Homo sapiens: one gene and its partners. The gene in region 3 interacts genetically with the main gene of each other region. Each region holds a gene or a part of one and is shown on either strand. Other genes may lie near its edges.

What was found.
Region 1: changes in COPA (region 3) and AURKA together harm fitness less than expected from each alone (positive genetic interaction), as found in Homo sapiens cells (one large-scale study listed by BioGRID).
Region 2: changes in COPA (region 3) and EIF3C together harm fitness less than expected from each alone (positive genetic interaction), as found in Homo sapiens cells (one large-scale study listed by BioGRID).

The regions. Positions count from the first base shown.
Region 1 is NC_000020.11:56,375,100-56,378,751, reverse strand, and holds part of AURKA (aurora kinase A), read left to right. Parts: intron 1-3,652. UniProt on the Homo sapiens protein: Mitotic serine/threonine kinase that contributes to the regulation of cell cycle progression.
Region 2 is NC_000016.10:28,714,409-28,718,060, reverse strand, and holds part of EIF3C (eukaryotic translation initiation factor 3 subunit C), read right to left. Parts: coding exon 3,615-3,652; intron 3,426-3,614; coding exon 3,371-3,425; intron 3,243-3,370; coding exon 3,133-3,242; intron 2,755-3,132; coding exon 2,627-2,754; intron 1-2,626. UniProt on the Homo sapiens protein: Component of the eukaryotic translation initiation factor 3 (eIF-3) complex, which is required for several steps in the initiation of protein synthesis.
Region 3 is NC_000001.11:160,308,690-160,312,341, forward strand, and holds part of COPA (coatomer subunit alpha), read right to left. Parts: intron 3,330-3,652; coding exon 3,179-3,329; intron 1,570-3,178; coding exon 1,503-1,569; intron 488-1,502; coding exon 412-487; intron 1-411. UniProt on the Homo sapiens protein: The coatomer is a cytosolic protein complex that binds to dilysine motifs and reversibly associates with Golgi non-clathrin-coated vesicles, which further mediate biosynthetic protein transport from the ER, via the Golgi up to the trans Golgi network.

The DNA of each region.
Region 1 (3,652 bases), on a different chromosome or scaffold from region 3:
GAAGATTCATCTGTGTATTTTTGGAGGCATGAGAGCTTGTTCATTTCTGTTTATCACAAAATCATATTCCATTATTTCATTATATGGAAGTACCTCAGTTTATTCGTCTACTGAAGGGTATCTTGGCTGCTTCTGGTTTTTGGCAGTTATCATGTTTTGGCTGTCAACATTTGCATGCAGGTTTTTGCGAAACAAGTCTTCAAATTAGTTGGGCACATATATAGGAGTGCTATTGCCAGCTCATACGGTAAGACTATATTTTGCTTTGTGAGGAACTGTCAGTCTTCCAAAGTGATTTTTACATTATATTTTACATTGCATTACAAATGTAGGAAATCACCTTACTAAAGGGCATGAGGGTAAAGTGTTGATCCAAGCAGCTTTGGAGATGAGTGGAGTCTATAAGACAAAGGCCAAAGGAAGTGCACATAAGCACTCTAATTGATAAAGTTGGTTTCCGTGGGGCAGCTGGTTAACAATTCTGATACCATTATACAACGGTAATGTGGTATCGGAACCAATGAATTGAGGTCCTCTTGCTTCTCATAGTTGCCAACATTTGATGTCAGTGTTTTGGATTTTTGTTTGTTTGTTTTGAGACAAGGTCTCACTGTCGCCCAGACTGGAGTGCAATGGCATGATCACCCACCTCAAACTCCCTGGCTCAAGCAATCCTCCCATCTCAGCCTCCCAAGTAGCTAGGACTACAGGCATGTGCTCTCGTGCCTGGCTAATTTTTGTATTTTTTTGTAGAGACAAGGTTTTGCCTTGTTGCCCAGGTCGGTTTCGAAATCCTGGTCTCAAGTAATTCATGCCTCCCAAAATATTGGGATTACAGGAGTGAGCCACTATACCTGGCCTCTTGTTTTGCATTTTAGTTATTCTAATCGGCATGTGGTGGTATCTCATTGTTTTGATTTCTAGTTTCCTAATGACATTTGATGTTGAACGTCTCTTTTTTTTTTTGAGACGGAGTCTCGCTCTGTCACCAGGCTAGAGTGTAGTGGTGCGATTTTGGCTCACTGCAACCTCCGCCTCTTGGGTTCAAGCGATTCTCCTGCCTCAGACTCCTGAGTAGCTGGGACTACAGGCACGTGCCACCATGCCCAGCTAATTTTTGTACTTTTAGTAGAGATGGGGTTTCGCCATGTTGGCCAGGATGGTCTTGATCTCTTGACCTTGTGATCCACCTGCCTCGGCCTCCCAAAGTGCTGGGATTATAGGCGTGAGCCACTGCGCCCGGCCTTGAACATCTTTTTATGTGTTTATTTGCCATCTGTGTATCGTCTTTGAGGCACCTGTTGAAATCTTTTGCTCTTTTTTTTTTTGAGTTTTGAGTTTTAAGAGTTCTTTGTATATTTTGGATGCAGGTCATCTGTCACACATGTTTTGCAAATATTTTCTCCCAATCCGTGCCTTGTATTTTTGTTCTCTTATCTGTGTCTTTCACAAGGCTGTTTTTTATTTATTTTTTTGAGAAAGGGTTTCACTCTGTCAGCCAGGCTGGGGTGCAGTGGTGCGATCTCTGCTCACTGCAGCCTCTGCCTGTTGAGCTCAAGTGATCCTCCTGAGTAGGTGAGACTACAGGTGGGTACCACCACGCCCAGCTAATTTTTGTATTTTTTGTATAGACACGGTCTCATCATGTTGCCCAGGTTGTTTTTTTTGAGGCATTCTTGCTTTGTCACCCAGGCTGGAGGGCAGTGACGTGATCTTGGTTCTCAGCTCACTGCAACTTCTACCTCCTGTGTTCAAGCAGTTCTCCTGCCTCAGCCTCCTGAGTAGCTGGGATTACAGGCATGAGCCACCACGCCCAGCTAATTTTTGTATTTTTAGTAGAGACAGGGTTTCATCATGTTGGCCAGTCTGGTCTTGAACTCCTGACCTCAGGTGATTTGCCCACCTCGGCCTCCCAGAGTGTTGGGATTGCAGGCATGAGCCACTGTACCCGGCCTCCCAGGCTGTATTTTTAATAAAAGTCCAAATGTGTCAGTTTTTTCTTTCATGATTGTGCTTTTTTGCTTCTCCTTTTTTATGTGATTAAAATTACTTGTTTTAAGAAGTTGAAGAGTCTTAGTTTGGGCCGTTTCTTATTGGATTGGCAGCTTGATAAAGCATGTTGAATGGTGGTTACTTTGATTTTTTTCTGTTTCTTGGTGGAGATCTCCGGGTAGTGTGGACATTAGTTCTCTTTTTGGCATTGATGTAAATGGCATTTAAATTCAAGTAATTTTACTTTCAGTATCTGATGAAATCATGCTACTATGGACAAATGGCTCTTTGGTCTTGTCTCTGCAACAATGACATGCTGTTTTAAAGACTTAATCTTAAATGTTTGTGCTTCTCCTAAGTAGAAATAGATCTCTAATTTGCTTTTTTAAATATTAGCTAAACAAATCAGCTTCTTATTTAATTGGCAATTAATATTTCTTTGAGTTCATCTTTTGGGCCAACTTTCTCTTACAGATCAATAAGTAAATCTATGCTCATTAATGGTAGTGACTCTACCTCAGGTACTCACATTTTACCCTTGGTTTTTTTCCTGGTAATCTTGCTTATGGTGGGTTGTAGTTTGTTGTTTCAGGTCAGTTAATCTTTTTCTTCAGTTTCTGATATTGATATCCTACTTTAAAAGATTCACCTTATACCAACACTACAAAATTACACATTATACTACTTCTCTGTTTTCTCTCCTTACACCCAAGGCTTCAATCTAGATGGAGTTTTGGTGTAAGCAGATAGCTGTTTGAAAGAAAATGAAAGATCATTTCTGTCTAGATTCCTTAGCAGTTAGAATGAATACACATGTACCTGTTTTCCTTTTCAGATGAATTCAAATAAAACTAATTGTAGTGACATGTCAGTGACCTATCCATATCTGCAATCTAACAACATGTGAGGTGTGGAGGAAGTGGCAGTGCCAGAGGGCTATCATGAAACTAATAGCTTCTTGTCTGGAAGTGATTTGAGGAGTGAAATCCATTGCCCTCTCAAACTTTAATGTGTGCAATTAAAGCATCAGCAACTCAAAGTTGGTGGTCAGAAGAGCAGCTTTCTTTGTATTTGCCTTCAGTTTATTGTGGTCTGAATTTTGATCTCCGGTTTTGGGCTGAAAGAATGAAAAGTGTTTATTCTGACAGTGACATTTGGTTTTTACTCATCTGTTTAGTAAACCTTTTTGATGTAAAATAATGTTCAATCCTGTCTAGAAATTGCTGTAGAAAGCAAACTCTTCTCAAACTTTAGGCAGAGCTAAATATATTTTTTCAATATTCAAACAGTTATCTGTATGTTAAAATAAATTCTGGGCCAGGCATGGTAGCTCACGCTTGTAATCTCAGCACTTGGAGAGGCCAAGGTGGGAGGATCACTTGAGGTCAGGAATTAGCGACCAGCGTAGGCAACATGGGGAGACTGTCTCTACAAAAAAAAAAAAAAAAAAAAGAAAGATTAAAAATTAGCTGGGCATGGTGGCACACACCTGTAGTCCCAGCTACTCGGAAGGAGGCTGAGGTGGGAGGATTGCTTACGGCCAGGAGTTCAAGGCTGCAGTGAGGTATGATCATGCCATAGCAATCCAGGCTGGGTGACAGAGTGAGACCCTGTCTCTTAAAAATAAATAAGTAAATACATACATACTGGACTTGTTTGC
Region 2 (3,652 bases), on a different chromosome or scaffold from region 3:
ACGGAGTCTTGCTCTGTTGCCCAAAGCTGAAGTGCAATGGCGCGATCTCGGCACACTGCAACCTCCGCCTCCCGGGTTCAAGCAATTCTCCTGCCTTAGCCTCATGAGTAGCTGGGACTACAGGCGCAGGCCACCACACCGGGCTAATTTTTTTGTATTTTTAGTAGAGATGGGGTTTCGCCATGTTGGCCAGGCTGGTCTCGAACTCCTGACCTTGTGATTTGCCTGCCTCCGCCTCCCAAAGTGCTGGGATTACAGGCGTGAGCCACCACGCCCAGCCAAGAAACACTCTTAATCATACAGCATGGCAGAGTTAAAAATAAAAGGACAGGAAACGTCCTTTTCATAAACATCCTTTATCAGGTAGAGGGAAGCTCCCTTCTATTCCTAGCTTCAGTCTTTTATCATGAAAGAATATTAGGATTTTTTTCAAATGCTTTTTTTTGCATCTGCTGAGATGACTCTACGGCTTTTGTCTGTTATTCTATTGATATAGTATATTAGTTGATTTTCATATTAAAACATCCTTCTATTATTGGGATAAATCCTCCTTGTTATTAAATTTTTTTTTAAAACTTTTTTGGGAGATGAGCCCACCCATCCTCCATCCCCCTACAGGCAAGGAGGGGGTGCTCCCATATAATCCTTATTGTATGTTGCTGTGTTTGGTTTTCTACTATGTTGTTAAGAACTTTTGAGTCTGTATTTATAAAAGTATAGCTTTATAGTCTTAGAGTTTTTTTTGTTTTGTTTCGTTTTCTGAGACAGAGTCTTGCTCTGTCGCCCAGACTGGAGTGCAGTGGCACGATCTCGGCTCACTGCAACCTCTGCCTCCCAGTTCAAGCGATTCTCCTGCCTCAGCTTTCCGAGTAGCTGGGACTACAGGCGCCTGCCACCATGTCTGGCTAATTTTTTGTATTTTTAGTAGAGACTGGGTTTCACTGTGTTAGCCAGGATGGTCTCGATCTCCTGACTTCGTGATCTGCCCGCCTCGGCCTCCCAAAGTGCTGGGATTACAGGCGTAAGCCACCGTGCCCAGCCTTGATGTCTTAAGTTTAATTTTAGGCCCCATTTGCTCCCTCAGACAGGAGCCTTTGTGTAACACACATGTGCAGTGCACATCACACACCGGAGTCCACACAATGGGAGACTTCAATACACAATTATTCAAAGACAAAAACACAAAGTACAGTAGATATAAAAGACCTGAACCAATAGTAACGCTGATAGTTCTGTAAGATGTCAACAGGTTAAAAAAACGAGTTTCATGATCAAGCAAGTTTTTGAGATGGTTAATAAAACAAAGTTAGGTATATTTATTCTCATGGAACTTTCCAGAGGTGGTTGTAAACCCTCCAAGAAGGGGTGTGATAGACAATGTGGCCCAGACCTTGACCAGTGTTCCCTGAAGCACTGGACAAAAAAGGCCTTCTCAACAAAATGCCCACCAAGTAAGTTGTTCAGCCTCTCTAGACCTCTAGAGGGCTGGAAACTCACTACCTCCCTAAAGCAGCACGACCACAACTTTTAAACACAGGAAAGCAACCTTGAGAGCAATAATCTTCCCATTAAAAGGGTACTATTTGTCTGGGTGCAGTGGCTCACGCCTATAACCCCAGCACTTTGGGAGGCTGAGGCGGGAGGATCGCTTAAGCCCAGGAGTTCAAGATCAGCATGGGTAACATGGTGAAATCTTGTCTGTATTAAAAACACAAGAATTAGCCGGATGTACTGGAGTGTACCTGTAGTCCCAGCTACCCAGGAGCCTGAGGTGGGAAGATCACCTGAGCCCAAGAGGTTGTGGTTGCAGTGAGCCAAGATTGCATCACTACACTCCAGCCTGGGAAGAGTGAGACCCTGTCTCAAAAAAAGCACTTTTTATCTGTAGTTTGTGCAAACTGGCTAAGAAAAAATAAATAAAAGCACTATTTTTAGTGAGCTTGAGATTTCACTCCCATGGGATACAAAAGAGCAGGTATCACTTTTACTTCAAAGGGAGAAACTAAGACTTAAGGTCAAGTAACTTATACAATGTTGTACAGCTGATAAAGGCTGGGAGACAGAATCCACACTGGGATCCTCCCCTATTCTGACTGTCCCAGTAAAGGTCATGAACACTTGCGGCAGTCTGTATGCTGTATGTGTACTAAGAAGTTATCAGGAAGGGTAACACAGTAGCAACGCACACTGAGGGCTCACCACACGTCAGTCCTAGATGAACTACTTTCTTACATCACACCTCCCTGTATTCCTGCAGCTATTCTGGAAGGGAGGGTTCCCTGCCTTATTTTACAGATGAGAAAACTGAAGATTAGACAGGCTAAGTAGTTTGTCCAATGTCACACAGGTATCGGGTGCCAAAGTGAGATTTGCACCCAATCCACACGCAGTGAGTAAGGCTGTGGGTAAATATTTGGACTCTGGAGCCTTCAATTCTCATCTTTAGGACACATTAGCTTCGTGACTTTAGCCAACTAATGTACTTGACTCTCTGATCCTACTGTAAAATGCTAACAGTTGGCTGCTCCAACCTAAAAGGACTCCATGGAAGAATCAATAACCTTCCAGACAATTAAGAGCTTTCCACCAGTTCCAGTGTAACCCTAGGTCCCACTACTTTCCTTACTTTTTAAGAAATCTTGAGGCCAGCGCGGTTTGTTTCCCTTCTTCCTCCTCTGAGTCGGAATCGGAAGATGTGGAACCTGTGTCCCAGTCTTCATCATCTTCGGAATCTTCTGAGTCCTCATCTTCATCCTTAGAGGGAAGAAAAGAGGATCAGCAAGAAGACAGGGAGATTGACTGGTGTCTCCTCCTTACTAACGCATGTTCGAGATTTATTTACATGAGTAGAACAAGAGCAGCTACTCATGGAATCAAGATACCAAGGGCTGGGACTCACCATCAAGTCCCAGAGTGATGCTGCAATTTGGCCGCAGGAACACACACAGCTTCCCCTGGCAGAGCTGGGCCCAGATCCCTGTTTGCCCACTGCTCTGATGTAAGAGGAAGCTTGTTCTCAACTCCACTAAATTCCACCCCTCCCAACCCTAGGGGTTTGAGTCTTGTCTTTTTCCCCCAGGGACTCAGGAACTACCTCTGGCAGGAAATCATCCATCTAACCCTGGCTCTTACATCCATCTTTTTGAGGAACTTGCGACTCTCCCCAGAAGGAGCTTCTGATTTCTTCTTCAAGAAAGTTGCAGCACTGACTCCGTCCTCATCCTCATCCTCATCTGAAGAGCCTAGTGGTAATGGAGGGAGAAAAAGATCCTGAATGTTGAAAAGCCAGACTGGAGGGCAGCCAAGAAACCAGGCGAAGGGCAACACTAACTCTGGACTTCCTATTTGCAACAAAGGTTCTTTGGCTCACCTTCTGAATCCTCCTCATTTTTCTCAGCATCTTCATCCGCAGACTGCTCGGGGTTCTGGACAGAGAGGGAAGTGAGAGAACAATCATGGACGCTGTCCAGCCATCAGCCCACCCCACCCCTCCACCCCAGACAGTTCTGTCATCTTCCTGCTCCAGTCACACCTCCCACTAGCAATTCCATCTTTGGGCCTCAGTCACGGGGTCACTGTTCCCAGTTCAGTAAGTGTGCCTCTAGCCTCCCCACCTGCTTGTAGCTTGTGATATGGGACTCGAAATCACGGT
Region 3 (3,652 bases):
TGCAAAAGGAAGCAAATCGGATCTGGATGTGGATAGGACAGTATAAATCCCTAGTCCCAGGATGAGGCATTATAAGATTGGAACCACATTTTTAAATAAATGAAACTACCAGGGTGAAAGTCATATCAACTGACAATAAACTAGGATAACATGCTGTGCTGAAAGAGAGAATGGAGAGTTTCTAATAACCAAATTATAAAATATATATATCTAGCTGGGGTAATAAAATGGAGGAGGAACATGAATATTTCACACCATGGTCGCCTCTGATGCAATTGTCAGCAGCACCTGCCAACAGACATGAGTGATGTGGCCATGGCTTGGGGATGGAATGTGAAAAACTTGAAGAGGAGTTATGATGCGGGTGAGGAGAGCTGGAAGCAGAGTGGGGTAGACAAAAAGAACACTTACCATCAGGATTCTGGGAGTCAGCATCTTTAGGGATGGTGTACAGGTCATAGGTACTATTCTCTAGATTGCTAGCTCTCTGTAGAAGAAAAGGGGAAATTAAAATGTTAGTGAGAAGCACCCAAGATACCAGTTTTCCAATTTACTCTGACAGAGAAAACAGTTCCATTGCACAGACACCAATCTGAAACCATACTTTTCTTACCCTTCACCCAGAGGGCATTTGACTGTTTCTACATCTATGAGTTATAGGGCTCTTTGCCAAACACATCAGCACTGATGTCACTTTATTTTCTTTATCCTCCAAAGATGCAGATATTATCTGAATGAAAGTAAGAAATGCTCTCTACTCCACAAATTAACAGACTAGGACCCTGATATTCTGGTACCCCACCCTGAGGACTCATCAACTGAGTACTCAACCTCTGGAAAGGAAAAAAAAAAGACATCAAAGAAAAGACACTATAGGAATGCAAATGTTTATTGGAAAAAGAAGAAAAGAAAAAACACTCAAGAAAACTCAGAGTATGGGACTACTAGATATTAAAGAAGAACAGATTAGACAATATAGTTATATGAGGAAAGACATTTAACTTCATTCCTTTTAACTTGGCCACGAGGGCACTAAAATTAGAATGTCATTTCTTTTTTTTTTTTTTTTGCAAATTCTGTTGCAAGAAACAGAGAGGAGTCATTGATGACTCTGAAGCCAACCCCACTGATATGAACTTCCTCTCAAAATAATAGTTCTTCTATTTTCACCCAAAGGAAGGGATCAAGGTAAACATTTTCTTTCCATAGGAAATATATATATATAGTCTAAACATTCTCTCAAATTATTTCTAGTGATCTGGGTCATTCATTCTGATGCTCCATTAAGTTCAGCTTTAGGAAAGATAGGCAGTTCACAAATGCTCAATATGTTTACGACAACTGAAACCTACCTGATTTGAGTCTCTGAGTGATCACTGTGTCAGCTCTCACAAAATGACCATTAAATAGTTTCTAAGAAGCCATTAAAGATTCCCTAAGGGCATAAGAAAGAGACCTATGGAAAATGAGGAGAACCTAGGAGGGCTCCACAGGTTACTTACTGTACAAAGCAGGACTGCATTTTCTGCTGGATTGTATGACATATTGAATACTGGAAACTTGGAACCACTAGAGATATATATAGAAAAAGGAGAAAACAGGGAAGAGGCATAAGAATAGAAGGAAGAAAGGAATCACCCCCACACCTCCTACTTATCCAATCTTTACACTATATACTCATCACTTTTATAATCAGGAATAAAATGAATAAATATTGTATTCTCTTCCTTTAAGGCTTGGCAACTTCCCTAGCTCAGCTTTGAACAAACAGTTTTAAAAAGTAAGCCATAGTAGAAGTCAAATTATTCAACAGAAGGTAGGTAGGGTTAACACTCACTGTAGTGAGTGGGACTGGTTCTGCTTGGATACAAATTCCTACACGTAATTGCAGTGGACACCACAGAGTAACATAATGTGATTTGTCTCTGGCTGGTTTCTCCTGTCCCTTGGAGTATTCACATAAACCCATTTTTTTATTGTAATGATGCTAAAGGGTGGTTATCAAAACCTCATTCCAAATTTTGCCACCATGAATGTTTCAGCATGCTGATGCAGCTGGCTTTTCAAAAGGACAGGTCCTTTTGCCAGGCATCCCAGAGGTTATTGTATCTTCAGAATTAAGAGTTTCCAGGGACATATATTCTGGTTCAGAGTTGTGCACTTTTTGCTGGAAGGCAAGGGAGAGTTAAAGAAAAGAAATGCCAAACAAAGGCGAAAAGTTCTGTTACCAGTTTGGGCCATTCTCTATCAAGAAACTTCCTCTGGCTTGCAAGAGACCCAGCAAATTGTGGCAGAATGATTTTCCATCCACAAGGTCACTAGCATTCTCAAGAAGGGAACTATCATTCTACTCATGACCACTTCCTTGCCTCCCTCACTCATTGGGTTTAAACTGAGCGGGCTCATCTAATGGGGATTCCATCTGTGACAGAATACGAGATCCAAAATGTCATTTAAAAGAAGAGTCTTGGTTGGGTGCGGTGGCTCACGCCTGCAATCCCAGAACTTTGGGAGGCCGAGGTGGGCGGATCACAAGGTCAGGAGTTCGAGGCCAGCCTGACCAACACAGCGAAACCCCGTCTCTACTCAAAATACAAAATTAGCCAGGTGTGGTGGTGCACACCTGTAATCCCAGCTACTTGGGAGACTGAGGCAGGAGAATTGCTTGAACCCAGGAGGTGGAGGTTGCAGTGAGCTGAGGTTGCATCACTGCGCTCCAGCCTGGGTGACAGAGTGAGACTCCATCTCAAAAAAAAAAAATTTAAAAATAAATAAATAGGCTGGGCGCGGTGGCTCACGCCTGTAATCCCAGCACTTTGGGAGGCCAAGCCAGGCAGATCATGAGGTCAGGAGATTGAGACCATCCTGGCTAACATGGTGAAACCGTCTCTACTAAAAAATACAAAAAATTAGCCAGGCGTGGTGGCGGGCGCCTGTAGTCCCAGTACTTGGGAGGCTGAGGCAGGAGAATGGTGTGAACCCGGGAGGCGGAGCTTGCAGTGAGCCGAGATCGCGCCACTGCACTCCAGCCTGGGCGACAAAGCGAGACTCCGTCTCAAAAAAAAATTAAATAAATAAAATAAATAAATGAAAGAAAGAAAAGAAGAGTCTTGTTTGTGGGAGTTGTATCAGGGTGACAGATGAGAGGGTTTGGAGGAAAGAAACAAGTCCGATTTACCTCCGCAACTGCATCACAGCTACATCTTTGGAGCTGTTGAAATCCAGCTGTCGTAAGAATCGGTCCTTGACATAGTGTAGCATATTGCCATGAACAGCATAGGCTGGCCGTTCCCGTTCCAGCTTAAACACAATCATACCACCATCATGGCCTGGGGGACAGGGAGAGGAGGAGAAAAAATTAAGCTGTAGGCAAGAAAAAAACCTGGAAATTGGAGATACGTAAGGATGAAGATTATATCTGTAAGACAAGACACCTGAATGCATCCCTTATTTGCCTAAATTCTCACAATTCTTGGAATCTTTATTTAAATAATTCTCTGTGAATCCTTTCCTAATACTATTCACACTGCCACACTTAGTGTCACTATCCACACTGCCCTTTTCTGTGTTCCCCTAATGCTTTGTACAAACCTCCATTACAGTACTTATCATCCTGCACTGTAATCATTTAGGTCTATCACCCACATTGTAA